Homo sapiens: one gene and its partner. The protein of the gene in region 2 interacts with the protein of the main gene of each other region in a biochemical or structural test. Each region holds a gene or a part of one and is shown on either strand. Other genes may lie near its edges. The genes, in order: PPARA and MECR.

Region 1 (16,902 bases), on a different chromosome or scaffold from region 2:
CGACCAGGGACAGCTGCTGTGGGGCCTGCCAAATGAGACAAGAATCTCAATTTCTTGGTGAAAGTGAGAAATCCAGCAGTCACAGGAGTTTTTCCAGGCATGTTGGGAAAGAGAGTACGAGGGGTTTTCTTCTAATCTGTTAGAGTGATGACAGGTATTTATACAGTTTAGAAACAAAGAGATGCCAATTATACCATTATCAGGAGGACAAGGTGTCAAGTAACAAAAATTCAGGTTTCTTTTGAAGGCCATTTTCACAGGACAGAGCAACAATTTGTGTGTGTGTTGGGTTGGAGGTGTCCTTTTTTCTTTTTTTTTCTTTCTTTTTTTTTTTTTTGAGATGGAGTCTCGCTGTCACCCAGGCTGGAGTGCAGTGGCTTGATCTCAGCTCACTACAACCTCCGCCTCCTGGGTTCAAGCAATTCTCCTGCCTCAGCTTCCCAAGTAGCTGAGACTACAAGTGTGCACCACCACGCTCGGCTATTTTTTGCATTTTTTTTTTTTTTAGCAGAGATGGGGTTTCACCATGTTGGCCCGGCTGGTCTCAAAATCTTGACCTCAGGTGATCCACTTACCTTGGCCTCCCAGTGCTGGGATTACAGCGTGAGCCACTGCGCCCGGCCCATAGCAACAATTTCTAAAGGAGTCTTTTTTTTTTTTTGAGATGGAGTATTGCTCTGTTGCCCAGGCTGGAAGATCTGAGCTCACTGCAACCTCTGCCCACGGGGTTCAAGCAACTCTGGTGCCTCAGCCTCCCAGGTAGGTGGGACTAAGCAATTCTGGTGCCTCAGCCTCCCGAGTAGGTAGGACTACAGGCACACTCCCACCAACGCCCAGCTAATTTTTCTATTTTTTTAGTAGAGATGGGGTTTCACCATGTTGGCCAGACTGGTCTCAAACTCCTGGCCTCAAGTGATCCACCCGCCTCGGCCTCCCAAAGTGCTGGGATTACAGGCATGAGCCACCGCGCCCAGCCTAAAGGAGTCTTTTAAGACTCTTGTTCTCATTATACTTCCAGGGATAGGGTAGGACTATTCCAGAATAATTGGCTATAGTCACGAATACCCTCCCACTGTCTCTGTTGCACAGAACAAGAAGATGGATATTCCTGGTTTTGTTCTCAATTTAGCCCCTTATTAAATACTCAAGAGTAGTATTTAATATTTAATAAAAACAAGTTTTATATGCAGAGAAAGTTCAATTGCTGTAGGTACAGAGAAGGGGATATATGCCCTTCAACTATCTCAACACTTATTGTTAATTATGAAGACTTTGCATTTTTAAGGCCTGCTTCTGGAATTTCATTAGTTAGCACTAGAAACAAAATGCAAGCCTTTAGACTTCCATGTTACTGGCAGAAATGGAGAACGGGGCGAATAGGATATTCAGTGAAGTGGGGTACATAAGAAGTTATTCTTCCACAGTACCCCCTTTTGCTGCTATTAGCAATATTTTAGCTCTAGATTTTCATCTGCATTCAATTCCTTCTGATTTTCAGATTTTCTTTCACAGTCTTCACCTAAATACACAATGTACAATATCTGATATTGTGATAATCTTTTAAGATTACATCCATACAACATTTTATAAGTATTGCCACAACATATATGCATTTTTCCCAGCAAGCCCACCCCTAGCATCTGTGGGGCCTAGGGCAGGACTACAAATCTCTGTATGTCTAAATATTTAAAAGCTTACGAACTGTTACATAAAATATTTATATCCACTTACCTGGACAAATACACCTTCATAAAACAGAATTCAAAATTATGTGTAAAACTATGGTTTTAATATAGCTGAAAATTGGCAAAATATTAAAGATAGCTAATTTTTATTGTGTATCTCTAGGTATTATGTTGATGGGCCACTAATGCTTGGATGGGTAATAAAGACATACATAATCACATAATCCATAAATTATGTTATTTCTTCTATAAATGTTTCTCTTGTCTTCATTTCAGAAGAATGACTAATGAAGATTTTCACGCAATTGCATTCTTTTGACAGTAGTGCCAAATTAGACAAACTTTCCTGAGTCAGTATACTTTCAGATAGTTTTTAGTTATTTCAATTGGGAGAAACTTGACTCTGCTGAGTGGTAACGAATTATGAATAAATTCTTAAAGCGTTATATGTAGAACTGAATCATGACTGTTGATATCATGTTTAAACAGTGTAGAAAGGGTGCATATGAAAAATTATGATTGCAGAAAATATTACACAATATTTTCATTATATAAAATAATGTTATTATTTCACCATTATCATCGTTTCTTACATTTAGATCCATACAGGATTTCTTACGTTTTTCTTTTACGTTGTTGGGGTATTACCAAGAAAACTGAAAACTGCGGTAGATTACTCACTTTGTTTGAATCTCTCTCTTCAGTACAATCTACACCTTGATCTACCATCGCCGGAAAATTGTCTCTATAGAAGTTAGTTTCAGAATCATTCATCCATAAATCTTTTTCTTCAGACTCCAGCAAATGCTTCTAGTTCCGATTTTCTTACATTGTACTTTAATGTCATTTTAGTGCTTATTTCATATGCAGTTGCTTTTTGGAAACCATTTTCTCCTAAAACTTTATGCAATATTTTAAATCCTTTTGGATTCTTTAAAACGTTTTCTAATTGTAATAACTGGACAGCTCAAATACAAAATTAACTCTATTTTCTGCCAAAGACCACGATTTGCTCTTTGAATGCTGCCTATTATTTCACTTAACTCTTTTAACGCATCTCATGTGTTAACCTGTCTACAATAAGTCAAATTGCTTTAACAGCACTCATGGGGTTACCATCATTGTATCTGAGGGTAGCCACAGGTCAAATTCAAAATGCTTCAAGATGTTCCATCTTTAGACACCGCCAGAAACAAACAAACAACCCAGTATGTCATCTTTGAAATGATCCAACGAATCGAATGCCGTTGCTCTAAGTACAGTGGAGGTCATCGAAATCCAGCTGCTTGCTAATCGCTTGCTAATTTCTGGGGCCCCTCTTGCCCAGGTCTAAGAGTGGTTCTGGTTTCCATTAGTGCTAAAATGCCTTCTATATCCTTACTTCTCAATTCGCCAAAGGAGCAAGTCCCAGACCCCAGCCTGCTGCAACTGGGCAACATTCCTACAGATGTGGCTTGACAAACCAAGAATAAATTCTGGTCTCTCAGGAACAGAGACGAAGCACCCCTCGGCCTAGGGAAAGGTCACAGAGGGCCCCGTAACGCAACAGCATGTGAAAGGCTGCCGGCTGGTGGCACAGGCAGACCTTCTCCCGCGTGGAGCAAAACCCTCAAATCTTTGGGGGAAGGAGGGTGGCCATCCTGTCGTCCCCAAAGCACAGGTGAAGGCCCGCGGCGGCTGGGGCGAGGGACTCGAGCTGGGAGGATCGGGGCCCACAGGCAAAGCCAGGCCGGCTTCAGAGTCCGGGCCCCTGACCCCAAGGAAAGGTGCCTCTCACACACCGGAGGCTCCAGGAGTGGGGCGGGCATTTCGGGTCCAGGGCACGGCGTGTCAGAGGCCACGGGCGGGAACAGAAGGAAGCAGGTGTGGCTGGTGCCTGGGGGCGAGGGGCAGCGGAGAGGCCCGGGAGGCTAAAGGAGAACGCGGCGCAGACCCGAGGGGCGCCGCAGGCGACGTGGGCTTTGGAGGAGCAGGGACAGGTCCTGAGACCCCGTTGGGCCGACACACCCCCTCCTGCATGCGGGGGCAGACGTCCCGGTGGGGTAGACTGGCAGCCTAGTCCGCGGCGCGGGAGGGCAGGTGGGAGACTGGAGGCGCCCTCGCGCCCCTCAGCTATCCGGGAGCCTCGCGCCGGCGACCTCGACCCTGTCGAACCCGGCGGAACACTCAGAAAGAAGCTGAGCGCCTCGCAGCGGCCAGGACAGCGGGCCAGGCCCGCGCGCTCCCGCAGCGCACGGCCAGACGCGACGCCCCTCAGCACGGAACCCAGCCTCGCGGACTACCCCGAAGCTCAGAGCCACATCCCGCGCAGAGGACCGCGGCGACCGGAAAAGCAAGGCAGAGGCGGAAAACCACCGCGAGGTCCCGCCTCCCGCTCCGCGCCTGCGTCTGCGGCTGCACCGGGGTTGGCCGGGCCGCGGTGGGGCGGGGCCGCTCAGGCGCCTTGGACGCGGAGCCGTGGGACGAGGGCGGCGGTGAGTTCGAGGTGGCAGAGTGACTGGGGCGAGCGTGCTGTGGCCCTTCCCTGCGCTGCCTCAGGGTGCCTCCCGCTCGCCGGGACTGAGTTCCGCGCCGGCGTGGCCTGCTGGGTTCCAAGCGCCAGGAGTCGGCGCAGCCGCTCTCAGCTTTGGGGACGGGACCGAGAAGCGGGGTGTGGGCCTCACGGGACTGTCCCCCCTGACCTCGGGCAGCGCTGGGGCGAGAGAGGGCAGGCGGAGGCTCGCGGGGACCACCAGCATCCCCGGACCCTCTCAGCCGTCCCTGTTCACAGGCACCGCCCCCAGGAGCCTCGGCAGGGGCCTAGGACGCCCCGGCGTGCAGAAGAGAAGCGGGATCAGGTTCACGCACACCCGCGATCGATCGTAACTTTTGTTTTGAGACAGAGTCTCGCTCTGTCGCCCAGGCTGGAATGCAGTGGCGCGATCTCGGCTCACCGCAACCTCCGCCCCCCCAGCCCCCGCTCCCCAACCCCCCGCTCAAGCGATTCTCCTACCTCAGTCTCCTGAGTAGATGAGATTAGAGGCGCCCGCCCCCACGCCCGGCTAATATTTTATTTTATTTAATTTTAATTTTTATTTTTTTGAGAAGGAGTCTCGCCCTGTCGCCCAGGCTGGAGTACAGTGGCACAATCTCGGCTCACTGCAATCTCCGCCTCCTAGGTTCAAGTGATTCCCCTGCCTCAGCTTCCTAAGTAGCTGGGATTACAGGCACCCGCCACTATGCTCGGCTAATTTTTGTACTTTTAGTAGAGATGGGGTTTCGCCATGTTGGCTAGGTTGGTCTTGAACTCCTGACCTCAGGTAATCCGCCCGCCTCTGGCTACCAGAGTGCTGGGATTACAGGTATGAGCAACCACACCGGGCCAGACTTAACTTTTAAAGTCACTGGTAACCCATGCTTCCTGGAGTTGCATCTGGGGACACCCAGTGGGGAAAGCCATCGCATTTGATACGCCTTTATACACCACGCTCAGTTCAGGCGAGGGGAGGTCACAGCCAAGAGCTAGGGGCCAGCTGATAATGTCGTACTTGATTCCATAGTCAAAGAAGGAGCTGGGTAATCAGCAAAATTGTAACTTTTGATGAACCCATCAGATGGCAGCCATTTAGCCAGAAATCTAAGGAAAGAGAGGCCTCCAAGACCCAACCATGAACATGAGAAGGGGGTTCCATACAAGCAGATAAGAAAACAGTTTTTTTGTTTGTTTGTTTTTTGAGATGGAGTCTCGCTGTCTCCCAGGCTGGAGTGCAGTGACGCGATCTCGGCTCACTGCAAGCTCCGTCTCCTGGGTTCACGCCATTCTCCTGCCTCAGACTCCCATGTAGCTGAGACTATAGGCGCCCGCCACCACGCCTGGCTAATTTTTTGTATTTTTAGTAGAGGCGGGGTTTCACCATGTTAGCTAGATGGTCTCGATCTCCTGACCTCGTGATCCGCCTGCCTTGGCCTCCCAAAGTGCTGGGATTACAGGCATGAGCCACTGCGCCTGGCCAAGAAAACAGTTCTAATGTCCACACCACGTGTGGACTAATGTGAGGGCATAGAGCTTCTAGGAGCAGCAGAAACAGGAGATTTTGCACCCACTCTGGGCCCTTCTCCACCAGCGTTCACTGGGGGCTTGTGGTAAAGAATGGGGCAGAGCAGGAGACCGGAACGCTTTTACCGTGGTGCAGACCTGGAAGAAGAGATGGGTGCTCTGGCTTGATCCTGTCTGGATCCTTCTCTCTAGCAGTACAAAAACCTTAAACCATTGGAATATGGACAGCAAATCCTGTCACTCTGGGCACCGGTGAAAACCTGTTTCAGCTGGGGATAGAGAAAAGGGTACGGTAGGGAGGCAAGAAACTGTGCTAGGACTATATGGTTAGGGTCTTCATAGCTGGGAAAGGGGCAGGATTCCTGAGAAAGCCTGTGACCCAGGGACACCCCATCTCTTGATCTTGCAGATGGCGTCCCATGTAGAGTGCCGTCCTCTGGGAGTGTTTGAGTGTGAACTCTGTACCTTGACAGCTCCGTACAGCTATGTGGGACAGAAGCCCCCCAACACCCAGTCGATGGTGTGAGTGCATGCCTTTTGGGCCAGTGCCGGGGAGGCCTGTGCCCAGTGCTGGTTGGTGGGTGGTGTGCCTAGGTCTGACAACTGTCTCAGGTGTGGAGCTTTAGACCCCACCCTGGCCAGGCTCTGAATGCTTCTGGTGTAATCTCTGGAGGCCTGGGCAAGGCTTGAGGTCTGACTCTTCCAGAACCTTCCTCCACACCTAGCCCAGAGTCCAATACCTGCTCTAGCTGTGGGGGAGCAGCTCAGCAGCTGGGGGACCTGTGGTGGCCTCCCCCTTTGGGGCTGCACCCTTGCCATGACACTTTCTTAATGGGAGGCCTGTCTCCCCTGCAGACCTGGATTAGAGCCAGTGGGTCAGGGGGCTTATCTCTTGACCTCCAGCTTGTCCTTCATCAAATGCCACTTTGTTGGAAAGCTGGCCGGTGTGTTACTCACATGGGATGCAGTGGCAGGGGCATGGCTTTTTCCTTCTGGCTGTCGTCCCTCTGCTGACCAGGAGCCTGAGTGTCATCATGTCACCCTGGGGTCTCATTCTGATGTGTAGCATGAGGCCAGCTGGCTTCCAGGGGCTGTGAGGGTGTGGCTTGGGGTGTAGGGAGGCCTGGGGTATTCAGGTGGCAGCCTTGTGCCCCCACTGTGGTGAATCAGTCAGGGTCTGGGGGCCCATGTTGCAGCAGCCCTGCTTTTGGCTGAGAACAAGGGGTTCTCTCTACCATGGCTGTTACAGAGGTGAGAGCAGGTTCAATTTCAGTGCCAGTGTGGCCCCCAATTGCTGATCCTTTCTGTCACTGCCCTGCAGCACGGGTGGCCTAGTCCCCTGCCCTGATGAGCCCACGCAGGTATGCAGGCCCTGCAGAGGTGCAGGCTGCTGCTGCCTGGCCATAGGTCATGGCTGATTTTCCGACGGCAGAGATTTGGGCTGTTCTGACGCTGCATTCACTCTCCTGCAGCCTCCTGGAGGAAAGCTATGTCATGAAGGATCCCTTCACCTCCGACAAGGACAGATTCCTGGTCCTCGGCTCGTGCTGCAGTTTGTGCAGCAGGCTGGTGTGTGTGGGCCCGGTGGGTAAGCAGCGTGGGCTGGGGCCACCTGTCCTTGCTGTGGTTATCCTGGAGCTCTCCCTGGGTAGGGAGGGCTGGGAGAGAGGGAGCAGCGGGTTCACCCCATTATAGATGGGGCCCCTCAGCTGATGAAGGGGAGAGGTGAGAGGGCAAGCTAGGGTCAGTTAGAGGGTCTCAGCCTGGTGTAGGAATGGAAATAGGTAATTGGTGGCTCTGCACCCACCCCAGTGGCCCCTCAGGGTTCCTCCCCTTCCCACCAACAGTGCAGACAGTCCTTGTGCGCCCTCTCACCAGGATGGTGACTTACTTTCTAGATGTTCTTGGAGGGATCTCCAGGAGAAGGGACTGTCCTTTCATGAGCACTTGTTGTGTGCCAGGTCCTGTGCTTGGGACCTGTTTTACTGCTGAGGCTTCATTCAGTCCTGCCCCTTAGTCAGGTAAAGCAGTATTATATTCCACCCATTTTATAGATGAGGGAACTGAGCTTCAGAGAGGCTGGGTGGGCCAGGTTCACCTGGGTAGCTGTAAACCCAAGGACGGATGGAAGTGGAGCAGCATGGCTTTCACAGCGTGCCCAGTGTACTCAGAGTGACCCCAGAGTCTGAGAAGTCCCTGAGCATCTGCCACAGGTTGACACACACAAAGGGGAGCTGTATCAATAGCCAGGGGGACGAGATGGGCCAGGGTGGGAGGAGCCTCCGCAGTGTGGCATGGGAGTATCTGAGGCTCATGGAGGAGCTGGTGGTCCAGGAGAAGCTGGGAAAGGAAGACTGCAAAGGTGGGTGGGCCAGGTGGGGAGGTGGAGGTCTTGAATGCAACACCTTGGCCTTGGGCTGCTCTTCGTGAGCAGCGGGGTGGCGGGGGTGGGGGGCGCACGCAGGTACCACAAGTCTGCAGCTTTCTTTGTTTAAACAGTAGGTTGTTAGTGAGCGGATCTCCATGGCGAAGGGTCTTTTCTAAGAACTGCAGGAGGGCAGCCTTATGTTTGCGAGCACACTAAGCTTTAAGAACAGACAGACACCAAAAATAAGAGTGGCCTAAGTAAAGCAAATAGTTATTTACTTACTTTCTCCTATGTAAGAGTCCAGAACTGGTGGCCTTGGCTGGAAGGGCACCCCTGTTGTCTTCAGCAGAGTCTCTATTTGGGTCCCTTGTGGCTGTGGAGCTCCCACCATCATATTTGCATCCCAGGCAGCGGGAAGGGACGTGAGAGCACAGTCCATGCCTTCAAAGGGCATGACCAGGAGGTGGCACACACAGTTGCTGACGCCCCTAACCAGCCTGAGTCACATGGCGATGCCCAGTTACAGAGGGGGCTGGGGAATGTCATCCTTAGCCACGTGCTGTGCACCGTGATGAATCTCGGGAGTTCTAGTGTGTAAGAGAGAGGAGAGCGGACATGGCTGCACGGTTCTGGCCTCCTGCCCAGACTAGCTGGCTCGTCCATGGCGTCTTTGGTCTGTGGGGCTGTCCTTCCTGTCCCCTGCCGCTCCCAGCACCAGGTGGCCACTGTTCGTGCTGCGATAGCTGGGACGGGAGGACTCTGGGATTTTCGGGGCATGGCCTGTGCTCCAGCTTTCCATTGTTGTCACTGCCCCGTGATGGAGCAGAGCAGGCCCCAGAGTCTTTCTGTCCCATCCCAGCTGTTCCCACCCAGGGTAGCCCAGGCCTGCATTGCTTTTCTCCTGGACACCCTGCCAGGCCCTCAGGCCTGGCTCTCCCTCTTGCTGGTCTAGCTCTGGCCACCTGCCCACACTGTGCATGCTGGGGCCCCAGCCCAGCCCCCCAAGTGTGGGAAGGGCTGGCCCCTGGGAGGAGCTGCACCATGTTCCCAGGATACTCAAGCCTCCATCCTTGTCCACTTCTTTAAGGAATGCAGTTTATTCTACTCCAAGAGATTCTGCCTCCCTTGTGTCCGGGAGAACATCAATGCTTTTCCTCAGGAAATTCGGCAAGACTTGGAGAAAAGGAAAGCTCCATCAAAGAGGACCCCCAGCCAGCCCGGTTCTCGGACGTGAGTGCAACTGGGGCTAGGTCATCGGGCGGCACCCTGCACAGAGCTCCTGGGCCAGCCTGCGCCAGGGATGCTGCTGAGCTGGGAGCCGCCATGCCTGGCCTTGTTTCTGGACCACTGGGAGCAGCACTGCAGCCCAGGGGAGCTGGAGTCCAGCTTGGAGCAGCCACAGGCCCAGGGAGCTGTAGCAAGAGGGTAGTCCAAAGGCAGATGCCAGACAAGACACAGCCAGGAACCCGGCCAGGTCCCCCCACATGCCCCTCAGGGCCCAGGCCTGAGTGAGTGCTGCTCAGATGTGACTGAGAGGGATGACCTCCTTCAGCAGGGCAGCTCCTAAGAGGCTGCGTGCAGGTGCGTGTGGGGGGAGATGCCACACTGTGTCGGGGCCATGGTGCACTGTAGGTGGCTGCAATGGTCTCTCTGTAAGGAAAATCACTGACAGCAGCTCCTTCTGGACCCAGTCTGGAAGGTCTAGAGGGGGATAGAATTTTTATTTCATATCCTTATGTGGTGCTTGGAAAATGTTTTTAACCTTGACCATGTATTATGTTTATAATTAAAAACCCAAAGAACCAGCTCATGTTTGGAAAAGGAATCTTCCACTGAAACATTTGGATACCCGACGTTCTCCCTGGACACTTGGCCCGGCAATAGTTGGGGTCTCCTGGGAAGCTGAGTGCTGGCTTCTAGCCTCTCCAGTTCCCTCAGACTCTGTCTTCAGCTCGGGCCCCTCCGTTCTGTCTCCCTCGACTCCAAGTCAGGAATACCGTGGGCTTCCTGCCCTCACCCCACACCTCAAGACCATCCCACTGCTTGCCTGCTTGCCCCCTGCCATCTCGCACTCAGCCCTGGGTGCCTGTGAAGCCTGGCCCCACTGCCTGCCGGGGGTTCCTGCAGCACCCCCCTACTCCAGGCTCCCCATCTCCCTGAAGCTTCCAGGGTAGCAGCTGGTGGGACACTGATCTGTGAGCTCTGGAATGTCTGCTTAGAATTCTGAGAGGCAGGAACTGCTCTGTCTTTGTAACTACTCAAGGCCAACTGTCACATGAAGGAATGAATAAAGAGTTTTTACTGACTTGTGCACTGATGGACTTTAAGATGCTCACTGCTTTAAAAGTTCCCGTTGTATGTGACTTCAGACGAAAGGATGTCGTATTCCGGAGCCAGATTGTCCTTGATCCATTCTGTATGTTGAAGGACACAAAAGGGACTGTGCAGGTGGAGACAGCCTCCATGAGGGGCGCAGGGACTGTTCTGGCGGAGGGCGGACCCCACAGCTGGGGACTTGGTTCTTTTAGACCAAACAGTCCATCTCGCAGCATCACTCAAAACTCACCAAAAAATTTTAAAAAATAGTTTATTTTTTAAAACCATTAAGGCAAAACTGTACCCTGAAATTAACTCTGTACATTCATCAGTCTTACAGTAGGACATCCCAAACACAGAAGTTCCCATATATTCAGGATATAAATCAATACATGTGGTCAGTTCAGTCTCCTAATAGGAAAACGAAGACCCAAGATTTTTTTTTAAAATTAAGGTTATTTTATAGCCATTTTCTAATTGCCTGGAACCAATCAGTTCATGTGACTAGAAAAATTACTTTCGCTCTTCTCTGCACATCCTTGATTCCGGAGGTCCTGGATGCCCGCTCCCCCCACCAGGAGAGAGGTATGAAGTTGGAGAGAGGATGCTGGGGCCTGTGTGGCAGTTCCTACTTTGGAACTGCACCTTTTTAGCACAAATAAGAAGCTGTAAGCCCCAAAATACTGAGAGTATAAGGCACTCACTAGTAGAGCACATGTGGAGAGTCTGGGCCCAGTCCTTGCTCTGGGATCTGCCTCATTCTCGCGTGTGTTTCTGTCAACCCTCTCTCTTAGGGTTTTAGCCTAATGGCATTATGAATCCCAGAGGGTGTAACCAATATGCACCAAGAAGTTTTGCCAAGTTATTGGAAACAAGGTATGGGGAGACTCACGGGGTCTGTGGTTTCTGCTTTCTGCTTTGGGTTGGGCCACCTGGAGGATGCCAGAGAACCGGCACGTGCAAAGAATTTCCATCAGGACATTTCCAATTGCCAGCGTTCTTTGGTAATAACCCATAGGTAACAGTTCCCTGAAGAGCAGACAGCTATTTACTAAACAAGAATAGTGAAGGGTCTTTAGCGAAACACTGTTGTATGAAATCGGTGGCCTCTAATACGGAGTCTAAGGCCTCGCTGGTGGAAGTGACTAGAGATAGCCTCTCTTGTGCTCTGTGCATATACAGTGTGGTAAAGGGAACAGATTTCCACATTGAAAGTAAATTCTGCATGGCTCAGGAGAAATGAAGAGCTGTGTGTGTGTGTGTGTGTGTGTGTGTGTGCACGCACACGTGTACGCAGTGTATTTTAGATGTTTGATTTCAGCTTCCTTTGTGTTTCCAATAGGGTCAAGAGCCAGGCTTTTAAGAATATGAGTCAATTAACACTGATTTCAAAAGAATCCAAATGTTTCTTATTAAATGAGTGATTGTAAGTTAGTAAAATATTTGTATTAGGATATTTTTCAAAAAGTCAAATCACAGTATTTAAGATATAGCTATTAACGTAGTTCTTTTTACCACACAATGTAGAAAAAAGTGATATTTAACATGAACACTGTAACTTTACCAAAAAGAGTACTACATGGTCTTCATCTTTTGTGAGGTACATGAGAAAAGGAACTGACTGTGCCTTAAAAAAAGTGAAGTTGCCAAAAGTGAGTGATTTTATTGTGAAATGATCGGCCAGTCACTCGTCTCCGGGGCCTGAAGGCTGACCCTCTCTGACTTGAGGCACAGCCAAGGCCTGGGGGTCCGGGGAAGGTGCCCGACTGTGTCCCAGGGCTGCGGCATGCCCCCCCACGCCCGGTCACCACTTTTCCTAGGAGCCAGGCTGCGTGGACTGGGGGCCTGTTTGTGCACCAGTTTGCACGGCACTTTATCAATTCATTAAATGAATGGATTTTGGATGCTGGATGTGTGGGCAGAAGAGGGGCAAGAGAAGAGGTGGCAGGTAGACTCCCTCCTCCTCACATTTGACCCAACTAGCAAACTTAAAAAAAATAAAATAAAATAAAAGCTGACCCCCCTCCCCAGGTCTTAGTTTGCTATCTCTGATGTAAAAATCAATTATTTTTTCTCTCTTTTTTTTTTTTTTTTTTCAAATAATCCATCTAACAGCCATGAGACCACTCAAGTATTTGAGGTCATCAGCTGCGTCCATCAAGACATGATATTGAACATGGACACCATCTGGTCTGTTGGTCTGTTTTTGTTGGCAAAGGACTCCAAAAGGATGCAGTTGTATGTGTTTCAGCTGAACCACATACCATAGCTCCTCTCCCCTCACAAAAGGGTTTCTCTGGGGGGAGAAAAGTAACTGATTATACCTCTCATGTCTCAAACTGAAATTCTGAGAAGCAAATGGTCAGTTGAGGGCCCCATTCCAGATCTGCCGGGACGTCCTCAGATGTCCAGAGCTGGCAAAAGGTGGAGCAGGCAGCAGCCTTGGGCACCAGCCTGTCTCTTTCTGTTCTGATAAGGCCACACACATGGCTTTTTGTGATAAGCTTCCAGCCCATGCCACTGAAATAACGTTTAAGAACCTGCTGCATTTCACAGAAATAGCGTAATGGAAATCATTATGTAATTAAACAAAGCATGAAGCTCATTATCTTTTTCTTTTTAACAAAACCTTCAATTTCACATTTTAGTGTACACTGTGGTTTCCAGAGAAATATATGGATCTCCTATATTCTGAGTCAGACCAAATTTATTGCCTTTATTCTTACCCTAGTCTATGGGGTCAATAACCGTTTTCCTGAATGCTGTCAAAATGGTGCCTGAAAATATCTAAATCCCAGCAAAAACCTAGGCCTCAACTTTGGAACCCAGTCATAGATCTTTCTAGGCAGAAGGCCTCTCAGGGGAGTACATGCCCTGGGCAAAGGCCATGGACTCGGAAGCAGGAAGGTCACGGGATGATTTAATGGCATCGAATAATCCTTTGGTGAGATGGCCTTTGTTGCCCTCAGCACAGTCGAGGCAGGTTAATCATTTATTTGCCACAACCCTTCCTTGCTCTGTAAAGCTGCAGCACAACTGGGTGGTCCGTATAGCCTTTTCTGCCACAGATGTTTGTGGACATTTCACTTCCAGACTGTGACGTCTGAAGATGGGCTTGAATGACAGCAGCCATCATCGCTGCCATTAGGGAGGTGCACACAGCCCCCTTTGCTCGATGCAAATATTTGGTTGGTAAGAAATTCCAGTGCAGCTAAACAAGTCAGCTTGGACTGAGTTAAGAAAAGCTGGGCCACTTTTAACATGAGAAGAGCAGATACTTCCCCATGCTTGGCAATGCCAATGCCGTAAAAATGGGAAGTGTTGAGACAAACCTCCTGTGGACGAGAGGTTCCCGTGGACATTTTTAACAATCATGAGCCTTCAGGTGGTGGCATCAGTCTTCATGGGTGACTTCTATGGACAGCATAATTTTCTTGCCTCTCCTGAATCTATACTACTTTTCTGAATGTGAAAGAAGGTCTAAAAAGTAATCCCTCGGGATCCCTGCATCAGGCCAACCATGCTAACTGCAGAGGGTGAGGCTGGCAGTCCAGGAGATGGGAGCTGAGGACAAGGCTGCAGGCCCCTGGGTCACCTATCCTTGCACTCACCAGGTGCAAGAGTCTAGAAACAACAGGGAGGCTGCAGGAGGTGGAGAAAGTGCACCGTGCCTGGGGACCAGCGGCTAGCAACACCCAGCAGGCCCTACATCTGGAGGCTGGTGTTTTCATTTTAAAATGGAGGCTGATTTGCTGTTACCCCCTCAAACAGCTGAGGAGACCACAGGAACCTGCTTTGAAAGCTGCCCAGAGCCATGGCATCCATAGGTGGTGAGCTGTGGGCATGTTCTCCTGGTGGCATCTGCATTTTGAAAGGCCACACTGTTGAAGAGGTACCAGCTGTTGAAGGTGGCCAGCTTTCCCCAGGCCCCAGGAAGCCCCCCACCAAAGGCCAGGCTGTCGGTCAAGCCAGTCTTAGCTGGGTGCATTGGGCTTGCTGTGTTGAAGCAATGAATCTATTTTAAAACTGGAGTTCAGTGAGACATTTCAAAGACAGGTGTGGCCACTGGATCAGGACCAAAAAACCCTCCATCATGTATGCGGCTGGTAAGTAGCAGATGTGCGCAGAGATACAGTGGTTTGAAAATGGGAGTTTGAGGTGGGAAGTGCTTGGAACCAAACACAGAGAGGCCCAGGTGCAAGTTCAGAGGAGACAGACCTTAGGAAGTCGCGGTTTCATCAGGGCTTGCTTTGGTGCATCTGTTTCCATCCGCATCTGGTAGGGTCTCTCTGAGGAAGTGGCTTCCTCGTGGCCAGCAGGAAGAGGTGAAGAGGAGAGGGGGTGCTGGGGGCGGTGCGGGGAGGGGGGTTTGTCACTGCAGGCCGGGACCATCGGCCGCTTCTCCTAAGCCCAAGACGTGCCCAATGTCAGTTTCACCAAATTGGGGTAGCACCTTTTGCACGTATCTTCAAGGCTCCCTTTACACAACCGAAGTTCCTTCCAGACGTCATACGAGATGCTGCTCCCCTGTGTGTGGGCAGGCTCAGGTGTGTGCACTCAAGGAGTCTCCATCCCACCTGCCCTAACTACAGAGGCCACAGGCTGTGCGCCTCAGCTCTAGCATGGCCTTTTGCAGGGCCTGCTGAGGTATTTGTTACATGGTCCATTGCGGGGAAGTGGTGGCTAAGTTGTTGACTTCTCACGGTATAGCAAATCTCTCATTTGTACCTTGAGCTCTTGCTCGGCTCTGGGAGGCTGCCCTGTCCCTGGAACCTCCAGACAACGCTCCAGGAAGGCTGTTTCCCTGGGGGTCTAAAATGGCCCAGTGTAAGAAACGTATCAGCGCAGCAGAAGGGTGCCTTGTCTGCTCTCTAAATGCGAAACAAAACAAAACACAGCTCTTTAAAACAGGGACAGCTCTCCTGGGCATCCTTGAATGCTGAGTTCTGGGTTTCTGCCCCACTTCACGTCCATTATGTTCGTATAGCAAACACACCCGTTAGGAAGATGCTTTATACTCTTCTCATCGGAGCTGGAGGAAGGGTCAAGCGGAAACAGGCAAGCGAGGTGGGAAGAAAGGCACCAGCAGCCGTCAGCCCGTGCTCCCAGTCCCGCTCCTGCCGCTGTAACTGGAAGCATCTTGTTTTGACAATTCATCCAAACGGCCTTAGGCCCTGCACAGTTCTCCGGTCTCTGGAAGTGTGGTGGGGACGGAATCCAACATGTGGGACACCCAGCTGGAAGTGCCAGGAGGTGGGAGAGGAGGGATGCGCCGCCAGGCTCCCCTGGACAATGGAGAGGCCTGCGTCTGCTCCCGAGCCACAGCCAGCTGGCACACAAGAGGCACGTCTGGGAGGAGTCCCTCGCCGTGCCTTCACCCTGGTCAGCACGGTAGACCAAGGCTGTTAGGTCTCTGAGGACTTTGGCACTTTTTGCTATTAAAAGTTGAGAAAATGAAAAACCGTGTTTAAACAATGACTTGTTGAAGAGTGGGTAAATTTGGCGACTTCCTACATTCGCTGCCAGAGGGAGCGGGTGCCACACATGTGCTCCGACACTCCTGGAATCTGTCCTGACATCTCTTTTGTTCTTTTGGCTGATGTCTGTTGAAACCCAGCAAGCAAGAAATGCACTCTGTTAATAGTTCCCATTTGAACTGGGGCATAATCAGCCTATATTTGAGTATTGATGCCCTGAGAAATCTATGATTAGGTGACCCAAAATATTCCAGCATTGAGTGGCAATTAGTGGTTTTGTTATTTAAAGAAATAGGAATGCCTGATTTCCTTCCCTATCAACACAAGAGACCAATGTCGAGTGACTTTCAGCCTGAGGTCACGGGTGTCTCCATTCTGGCTTCACCAGAGATGTCCCTGGAAGTCTTGCTGGGCCTTAAGGAAACCAAAATGCTCACCATCGCTGCTGAGTGTCCCGGGAGCTAACATCGAACTTGCCAGTCAGCTCACTGTTACTGCTGAAAGCCTGAGACGGGGAGCTATTTTAAACAGGTTTTATGAAAATGTAAACAGAACAATGACTTCTCTGAAAACCATGAGGCTCACTTTCCTGGACCACATCTCCTTGAATGGCACAGGGTACATCAGAGCGAGCAGCTGCAGGGTCGCTGGGGACAACACAGGCTTGGCATTGGGCTCCAGCCCCTGGATCTTGTTGACACAGGGGCTTCTCATTTTAGGAAATAATACTGAAACGGATGCACCATGACAGACACTCAAAGGCTAGCTTCTTTCTGAATTAGGATGGCCACTTGGCTGGTGGCATATATGGAAACACTTTTATTTGCTTTTGGTTCCTAAGACACTTGGGCAGACTGCCCGCCGCTGCTGCTGCCATTGCTGGCCAACAGCCCCTTTGATTGCATCTTTTTTTTTTTTTTTTGCCGGGGTGGGAGAGGGTGGAATCTAACTCTGTCACCCAGGCTGGAATGCAGTGGTGAGATCACAGCTCACTGCAGCCTCGACCTCCTGGGTTCAAGC
Region 2 (8,505 bases):
TTTGGGGCTAGATTTTTTTTTTTTTTTTGATATAGGGTCTTGCTCTGTTGCCTAGGCTGGAATGCAGTGGCATGATCATGGCTCACTGCAGTCTAGACCTCCCAGGCTCAGGTGATCCTCCCACCTCAACCTCCCGAGTAGCTGGGACTACAGGTGCACAGCACCATACCTGGCTAATGTTTGTATTTTTTGTAGAGATGGTGTTTCACCACGTTACCTAGGTTGACCTTGAACTCCTGGGCTCAAGTGATCCGCTTGCCTTGGCTTCCCAAAGTGCTGGGATTACAGGTGTGAGCCACCGCGCCAGGCCTTGGGTAATTCTTTGTTGCAGTAGACTGTTCTGTGTCCTGTGGTGGGTTTAACAGCAGCACTCACTCTGCCTGCTAGATGCCAGTAGCAACCTCCTTCATAAGCTGTGATAGCCAGAAATATCCCCAGACATTGTCAAATGTCTCCTGGGGGTAAAATTGCCTCTGGTTGAGAACCACTGGTATATTGTCTATGTCTCCAGTTAGAAGGGCAGTTCCATGAGAGTGAAGACCCCACGTCCAAGTTCCTCAGGGCCCTGATGACCTCAGCCTGGCATTCACTCTTCCATGCAGCTGATCCTCCCCAAGCCCTGGACTGGGCCGCAGGCTACCTGAGAAGCACATCAAAGCGTTTGTTCTACAGGACCCTCGTCTGTGGGCTTGTGCAGCTTGGGGCCAGGGATGGTGGCCTACTGGCCTTTGCACTGCCAGTACCCACCCAGGCTTTGCTTTCAGGGTGGTCAGAAAATGATTACTGGGGGAACACATGACAGAAAAGCAGGAAGGGGGCCTCTTGGTGCTGTGAGCTGACCAGTGCACAGTGTTGGTCCTTCTCGACAGGGATGACTTCTACTTTTTGGAAGGGAGAGTTCAGACTTTATTAGATACCTTAAGGCTGGCCCTGGGGAAAACCGTGGCTGGCTTCACCATCCTCCTAATAGGAAGAGGCAGTGAGGAGAACAGTAGTCTGGGGAAGGTGGGAGCCCCAACTGAGGGGCCTGCACCCAGCCCCTCAGATCCGCCTCCCCTCCCATGTCACTCCAGCTCTTTTGGGATGATCACATGGTGAGAATCTGCTTTGAAGATATGAAGGGCTTCATGGAGGCTTCCAAGGCAGACTGGTAGTCCTGCAGCGGGACCTGGGAGCAGGCAGGGGCTGTGAGCTGGCCTCGGCGGATGAGATCGCACAGTGTGAGGATCAGCTCCTTGAACTGGTCTGCGGGAGGTTGGAGGAAATCAGACAAGAGAACAGCAGCTGGGGCTTGGTGAGATGTGGCACGGGGCTGCCCTATGGGCAGGAGCTGGCACCAAGCTCCAATAAAGCCTTGAGAGTCCTGGCTGTGCCAAGGATAGGGTGGCTGTGGAGGCAGCCTGGTCCCTGCCTGTCTTTAGGACAGTGAGGTCAAGGTGGGGAGAGGGGAACATAGGAGCGGCTCTAGGGGCTGAGGGGCAGACAGGCAGAGACCACCCTTCAGAGTGGTGGCTAAGATGGCACAGACTCACAGAACCTGGCCACAGTGGAGACAGGAGCACTGAATGGTGGGAGGAAAAGGATGGCGGAGGCAGGGAGGCCAGAGGAGGCCCAGAGAGGGAGTGGGTATGCCTGGCACGCCAAGTGATGTGGAACAGTTGAGCTCTGCTCAGGAAATGGAGCTCTCCCTGAGAGCCCAGGACTCCCTTAGAACCCCACGACCGGACGCCACCAACATCCCCTTCCTGGGCCTGCCTCCTGCGAAGGACCCTATATGGTACAGGAAGTTGAGAAGTGAAGGCCTCGGCTGAGAAGTGTTTTTCCATAGACATAAATTCATTCAGCCTTCAAATCTAGTCATCTATACTGGCTCCTCAGTTGCCTTTAAGCGTGAGTCTTGTCTGGGTGTGGTGCCTCACGCCTGTAATCCCAGCACTCTTGGAGGCTGAGGTGGGTGGATCACTTGAGCCCAGGAGTTTGAGACCAGCCTGGGCAACATGATGAAACCCCATTTCTACTAAAAATACAAAAACTAGCTGGATGTGGTGGCGTGTGCCTGTGGTCCTAGCTACTTGGGAGGCTGAGGTGGGAGGATCACCTGAACCGAGGAGGTTGAGTCTGTAGTGATCTGTGACCACACCACTGCACTCCAGCCAGGGCAACAGAGCGATACCTTGTTTCAAAAAAAATAACCCCCCAAAACAGCAAAAAAACCCATGAGTCTGAATGCCTTAATCAGGTTTATAAGGCCTCTGTAACCTGGTCACAACCCACTCACCCAATTTTCCAGCCCCAGCTCAGATCTAGTGCTCCAGGTCGCTCGGAACCGCTTCAGTGCCTAGTTGCACGTGTGATTTTCGATATTTTCTGCCTGAAACACTGCCTTCATGCCACCACCTTCCTCCCCTTCACTTGGATAACTCCATGTTATTCTTTGTCCTGAGTTTGGAGATCCCGCTCTGGGGAGCCAGTCCTCCAGGAGATGAACAGGGAGATGATCTGTTTACATCGTGCCTCATACCTCCCTGCAGGGAGGTGACTTTGGGCACGCTACTTAACCACTCTGAACCTCAATTTCCTCCTCTGTCAAACACGGCTAACAAGAGTTTAAACTTAGGACATTTAAACTGAGGCAGAGATTAAGTAACTTGCTCAAGGTCCCACTGCTGGCTAGGCAGAACCTCTATCCAGTAGTGTGGAAGCAGAATTTGAACCCAGGCAGGCTGGCTCCAGAGTCTATTCTCTCTGTTTGGCTATCCATCTTTCCCCACTGTCAGCTCTTCAGGACGGGGGCAGTGTCTGTCTTGTTCTGCGCCCCTAAGACTAACCCAGTTTAGTCCAATAACTGTTTGCTGACTGTAGCTGGACTAAGGCTATTCTCTTTGATCCTTCTGTGGGGCTGGGGACCCAATCACCCCTCCAGGGCTCAGAATAGCTGGTCATTTCTGCTGCCATTTTTAGGCACTGCCCTCATCTGTGACTCTTGGCACTGGGCCATGCACTCACCTGGACTGTGATCCTTCTTCCACTGGGACAACCAAAAGCCTCGAAGTTTGAGATCCTTAAAAATGAGCAGGCTCTGCAGACACAGGAAGGACATGCTGGGCTCTGAGGGCAAGAACTTCAGGTACCGCTTAAGGGTACAGACTCCCCTCCAGGAACGGGGCATTGCCTAAGCTTAGACAGCTGTCGTGCCAGGGGATGTGGCCTGGCTGAGGTGTCTGGCCCGGCTCCAGGCATGCCTCCCTCTGCACCCAGCTTACCACAGAGGCTACGACGGGCTGCTTGGCCATCCCCCCATAGGTTACCATGGTTCCTCCACGCCTGAAAAGTCCAAAGAGAACAAAGAGTGGATGCAAGGCAGAGACAGAGCCCTTCCTGAACCTGCCATGGCGCTTCTACTCCAACCCTGGTTCCTTTATAAACCCTGCTCTCAGAATCTCTGGGAAAGGTTGAAAAATACAGATTCCAGCTGGGAGCAGTGGCTCATGCCTATAATCCCAGCACTTTGGGAGGCTGAGGCAGGTGGATCACTTGAGCCCAGGAGTTCAAGACCAGCTTGGGCAACAAAAGGAGACCCCATCTCTACAAAAAAAGTACAGAAAATTAGCTGGGCAAGGCGGCATGCCTGTAGTCCCAGCTTCTCAGGAGGCTGAGGTGGGAGAATCACCTGAGGCCATGAAATTGAGGTTGCAGTGAGCCCTGATCGCACTACTGCACTCCAGTCTGGGCAACAGAGTGAGACCCTGTCTCAGAAAATAAATGAATGAATGAATAAATAAATGCATGCTGGGGATGGCAGCTCACACCTGTAATACCAGCACTTTGGGAGGCCAAGGTGAGAGGATTGCCTGAGCCCAGGAGTTTGAGACCAGCCTGGGCAACATAGTGAGACCCTGTGTCTATAAATAATAATAAAAAAAAATTAGCTGGGCACGGTGATACATGCCTGTGGCCCCACTCAGGAGGCTGAGGTGGGAAGATCACTTGAGCCTGGGAGGTTGAGGCTGCAGTGAGCTGAGATTGCACTGCTGCATTCCAGCCTAGGCAACACAGTGAGACCATCTCAACACAAAACAAAACAACCAAGAAACCAGATTCCTAGGTCCAATCCCAGACTCAATGAATCAGGAGACGAGAATGTATATTAAACACACACACACACCCGCTCTGGATGACTTGTATGTTTAGCCAGGATTGGGAATCCACTGATCTAACCCATCCAGTCAGGCTTTGATTAAGTGCTGAAAAGAAACATGCTCTCCCCAGATGAGCTCGAGGCCTGAGTTCAGCCTTGGCTCTGCTCTCACTTACAGGTGTCCGACCTAGGGTGATGCAGTGAAAATGGCCCAGACCTCATCTCTTCATCTGCCAGTGCTCATTCTAAGAATCAACGTGAGGAAACAGCTCTACAGATAAGGAATGATGTGGACGGTGCAGGGAACAATGACAAGCATCTTCTCACTGCAGGAGGTGCCTTCTCAGTACCTGCTGTCTGACACCCACACCCCCATGTCAGCTGACATACAGGATTGAGGCTAACATAATTTTTAAGTGAATAAGCCTGGAGTTCACTTGACTTAACCTATGTTCACCTCCCCACTCCCTGGCTCTTCTAGGAGTCTGTTGATTAAGGATGACCTCAGGCACATTTGGGGACAACACAAGGTAGACTTTCAAAACTACCAAATGGAAGGAGCTGCTGTCCTAGGGCAGGTACTTCTGTCCCTGAGGCTGCTGGGTAGTTTGGTCTTAAGTGCCCCTTGACTGCCACCTGCTGTAGAAAGTAGCTCCTGGGAGCCAAGCCCTCTCTCTTCTGTATCCCTGCTGCACTTCATCTAATCAGACTAGCTGACACTTACCAGGCTTCTACTATGTGCCAGGCACAGTTCTAAGCATTTTGCATGCACTGCCTCAGGGAATCCTCGTAACAACCTTGTTTTAGAGATGAGAAAGCTGAAGTCCATCCGTCATTTGTACAGCAATTTGTATATCGCCCAGTGTCCTTTAGACCAGCGGTCCCTAACCTTGTTGGCACCAGGACCGGTTTCATGGAAGACAATTTTTCCATGGACTGGAGTGGGGGAGATGGTTTTGGGATGAAACTGTTCCGCCTCAGATTCTCAGGCATTAGATTCTCATAAGGAGCATGGGACCTAGATCCCTTCCCTGCGTGCTTCACAATAGGGTTCACATGCCCATGAGAATCGAATGCTGCCACTGATCTGTCAGGAGGCGGAGCTCAGGTGGCCATGCTCGCTCACCCACCGCTCACCTCCTGCTGCGTGACCTGGTTCCTAACAGGCCACGAACTGGTACTGGTCTGCGGCCTGGGGGCTGGGGACCCGTGTTAGACCACCCTTCAGAGGCAGAGGGTTTATATAACCCCCATTTTACAGATGAAGAGACGGAGGCCTGGATTGTTTTTCACGTATTGCCTAACTTTCCACAGGCCCACAGCTAGTAAGTCACAGAGCAGGGGCTTGAACCCAGCCATTCTGGCTCCAGTGCCTACACCCGTAACAACGCTTCCCCCTGCAATGACATTGGGATTGAGGTCTGCCGCAGGGGTTGTCTGTCAGGTATAGGGCTGAAGCGGTGTGCTCAAATGTGGGGTCAAGCCTGGCTCTCCTGCTGCCTAGACTTTGGGACAGGTACTTGACCTCTTTGGGCCTTGTTTTTTTTTGTTTGTTTGTTTTTGAGACACACTGTTTCTCTGAAGCCCAGGCTGGAGTGCAATGGCACGATCTTGGCTCACTGCAACCTCTACCTCCTGGGTTCAAGCAATTCTCCTGCCTTAGCCTCCCAAGTAGCTGGGATTACAGGCACCCACGACCATGCCTGGCTAATTTTTGTATTTTTAGTAGAGACGAGGTTTCACCATGTTGGCCAGGATGGTCTCGAATTTTTGACCTCAGGTGATCCACTTGCCTCGGCCTCCCAAAGTGCTAGGTTTACAGGCATGAGCCACTGCGCCCGGCCTGGGCCTCATTGTTTAAAAGTATAAAACAGAGGTTAGAACTGCACCCCCTGTCTAGGTGGTTGTGGGAAGGGTAAGTCAAGCGCTGCACACAGTCTGGTGCATGGTGAATACTCACCACAGTGCTCTGGCCACGTGACTCACCTGCTCATCAAGCCTGTGAATTCTCAGAGGGCACATCAGTGTCGCAGCCCTCTCTGTACCTGGTAGCTAGTAAGTGCTCAGCAAGTATGCGCTAGCTGAATCCGTACTATTGAGGGGGTTCCTGCTTTAATTAGGAAGTGTCTTTTTACACACACTCTAGCTCAAGAAGCTTTTATTTTTATTTTTTGAGACGGAGTCTCCCTCTGTCGCCCAGGCTGGAGTGCAGTGGCGCAATCTCGGCCCACCGCAAGCTCTGCCTCCGGGGTTCACGCCATTCTCCTGCCTCAGACTCCTGAGCAGCTGGGACTACAGGTGCCCGCCACCACACCTGGCTAATTTTTTGTATTTTTAGTAGACACGGGGTTTCACCGTGTTAGCCAGGATGGTCTCGATCTCCTGATCTCGTGATCTGCCCGCCTCAGCCTCCCAAAGTGCTGGGATTATAGGCTTGAGCCACTGCGCCCGGCCTAGAAGCTTATATTAAGGGAAAGAAGAATGGAAGGACATGCATTAATATTGTCAACAGGGCTTATCCCCCTTGGTAGTGGGGTGATAGGTAACTTTTTTTTTTCTTTTTTGAGATGGAATCTCCCTTTGTCACCCAGGCTGGAGTAGAGTGGTGTGATCTCGGCTCACTGCAACCTCCACCTCCTGGATTCAAATGATTCTCGTGACTCAGCCTCCCAAGTAGCTGGGATTACAGGTGCCTGCCACCACACCTGGCTAGTCTTTTTGTATTTTTAGTAGAGATGGAGTTTTGCCATGTTGGCCAGGCTGGTCTTAAACTCCTGGCCTCAAGTGATCTGCCTGTCTTGTTGGGATTACAAGCATGAACCACTATGCCTGGCCAGGTAACTTAAAAAAAAAATTAATTTTTTTTTTTGTAGTGATGGGGTCTCACTATGTTACCCAGGCTGGTCTCGAACTCCTGGCCTCAAGTGATGCTTCCTCCTTGGCCTCCCAAATTACTGGGATTATAGGCATGAGCCACAGTGCCCAGCCAACAGGAAACTTTTATGCTTAAGTTTTCCTTTGCACTTTTACATGTTTTCAAAATGTTTTGTAATAAGCATAATGTTACCTTTAAAATTAGAATCTATTTTAAAAGCTAATACAAATTTTGAAAGGTTAAATAAGTTAGGACTAAGTGACTTTTTCAGACATCCCTAGGTTATAAATCCTTGACTATTCCTCTATGGCAGGCAGCTTAGCAGTCTACTTCTGGGGTCCCTTGGAAAAATAAAGCTGGATAGGCCAAAATTTTGGTCATCTGCAAAGGGGAAGGCTGAGAAACCAGTGCCCAAATAGCTGGATGACTTTGGTCCTAGTTTCCACTCAACATTGTGCTGACCTGGACTTGGCTCGAACTGGCGATGGGACTCAGTCACTTGATGGTCCTCCCAGCTAAAGACCTGGAGAGCTCTGGCGAGCTGGACCTGCAGGCCCAAGGGACTTACGCTAACTGCCGCAGCAGCTCTGTGGAGCTTTTCCCACCAACACAGTTGAGAGCAAGCCGTGGCTGGGGCATGTCCTGGAAAACAACAAAAGTGCAGTGAGGGAGCATCCCCGCTCTACATATGGGGTCTGAAGCTTGCCCAAGTGCTGTGTTAAAAGGAGGGAGTAAATGAGATGTTTATGCCTTTGTTTGCGTGCACGTACTTATGTATATGTGTGTGTGTTTATGCCTTTGAACTCACCTTTTTCTCTGCTTAGGAAGTGTCTTTTCTTTCTTTTTTCTTTTTCTTTCTAAGACAGGGTCTCGCTCTGTTACCCAGGCTGGAGTGCAGTGGTGCAATCATGGCTCACTGCTACCTTACCCTCCTGGGCTCAAGCAATCCTCCCACCTCAGCCTCCCAAGTAGCTGGGACTGCAGATGAGTATCATGATGACCAGATAATTAAAAAAAAATGTTTTTTTGTAGAGACAGAGGTCTCACTATGTTGCTCAGGCTAGTCTCAAACTCTCAGACTCAAGCAATCCGCCTGCCTTGGCCTCCCGAAGTGCTGGGATTACAGGCATGAGTCACCTCATCCAGCCAAGAAGGGCCTTTTCTGTAGCAACTTAATCCTGTTGTCCATTTTAGGACCTGGCAGAACTCATCTTCTCTGGGAAAGAATAGGCAAAGGGCATCTGCATGCAGTTTGGTGGGTTTCAGCTCCCTGTGTGCCCCCCTTTTCAGTTCTTTGACTCAGCTGATATTATATATGCTGATCTACTGCTTCAGAAATGTTCGCAAGAAGCGCATGCTCTTGAGTGTGTGTCTTTGGTTCCTCCAGATGGTTCAGTGAAAAGGGGCTGAGGGTCTGGTCACTTACTAGGCATGTTGTGGGGTGGAGGTTCTGGAAGGTTAAGAGGCTTTGAGTTCGGAGAGACTGAGGCCA

The links.
Region 1: the proteins of MECR (region 2) and PPARA form a complex in vitro, tested with the Homo sapiens proteins (one study listed by BioGRID).

What each region holds. Positions count from the first base shown.
Region 1 is NC_000022.11:46,237,513-46,254,414, reverse strand, and holds the end of PPARA (peroxisome proliferator-activated receptor alpha), read right to left. Parts: 3' UTR 10,660-16,902; downstream 1-10,659. Other genes in the region: CDPF1 (cysteine-rich DPF motif domain-containing protein 1), read left to right, coding at 6,131-6,243, 7,194-7,309, 9,177-9,601. UniProt on the Homo sapiens protein: Ligand-activated transcription factor. Key regulator of lipid metabolism. Activated by the endogenous ligand 1-palmitoyl-2-oleoyl-sn-glycerol-3-phosphocholine (16:0/18:1-GPC). Activated by oleylethanolamide, a naturally occurring lipid that regulates satiety.
Region 2 is NC_000001.11:29,192,935-29,201,439, forward strand, and holds part of MECR (enoyl-[acyl-carrier-protein] reductase, mitochondrial), read right to left. Parts: coding exon of another isoform or gene 8,440-8,505; intron 7,656-8,439; coding exon 7,582-7,655; exon of another isoform or gene 7,476-7,581; intron 3,325-7,475; coding exon 3,264-3,324; intron 3,109-3,263; coding exon of another isoform or gene 3,080-3,108; coding exon 3,007-3,079; intron 1,246-3,006; coding exon 1,088-1,245; 3' UTR 1-1,087. UniProt on the Homo sapiens protein: Catalyzes the NADPH-dependent reduction of trans-2-enoyl thioesters in mitochondrial fatty acid synthesis (fatty acid synthesis type II).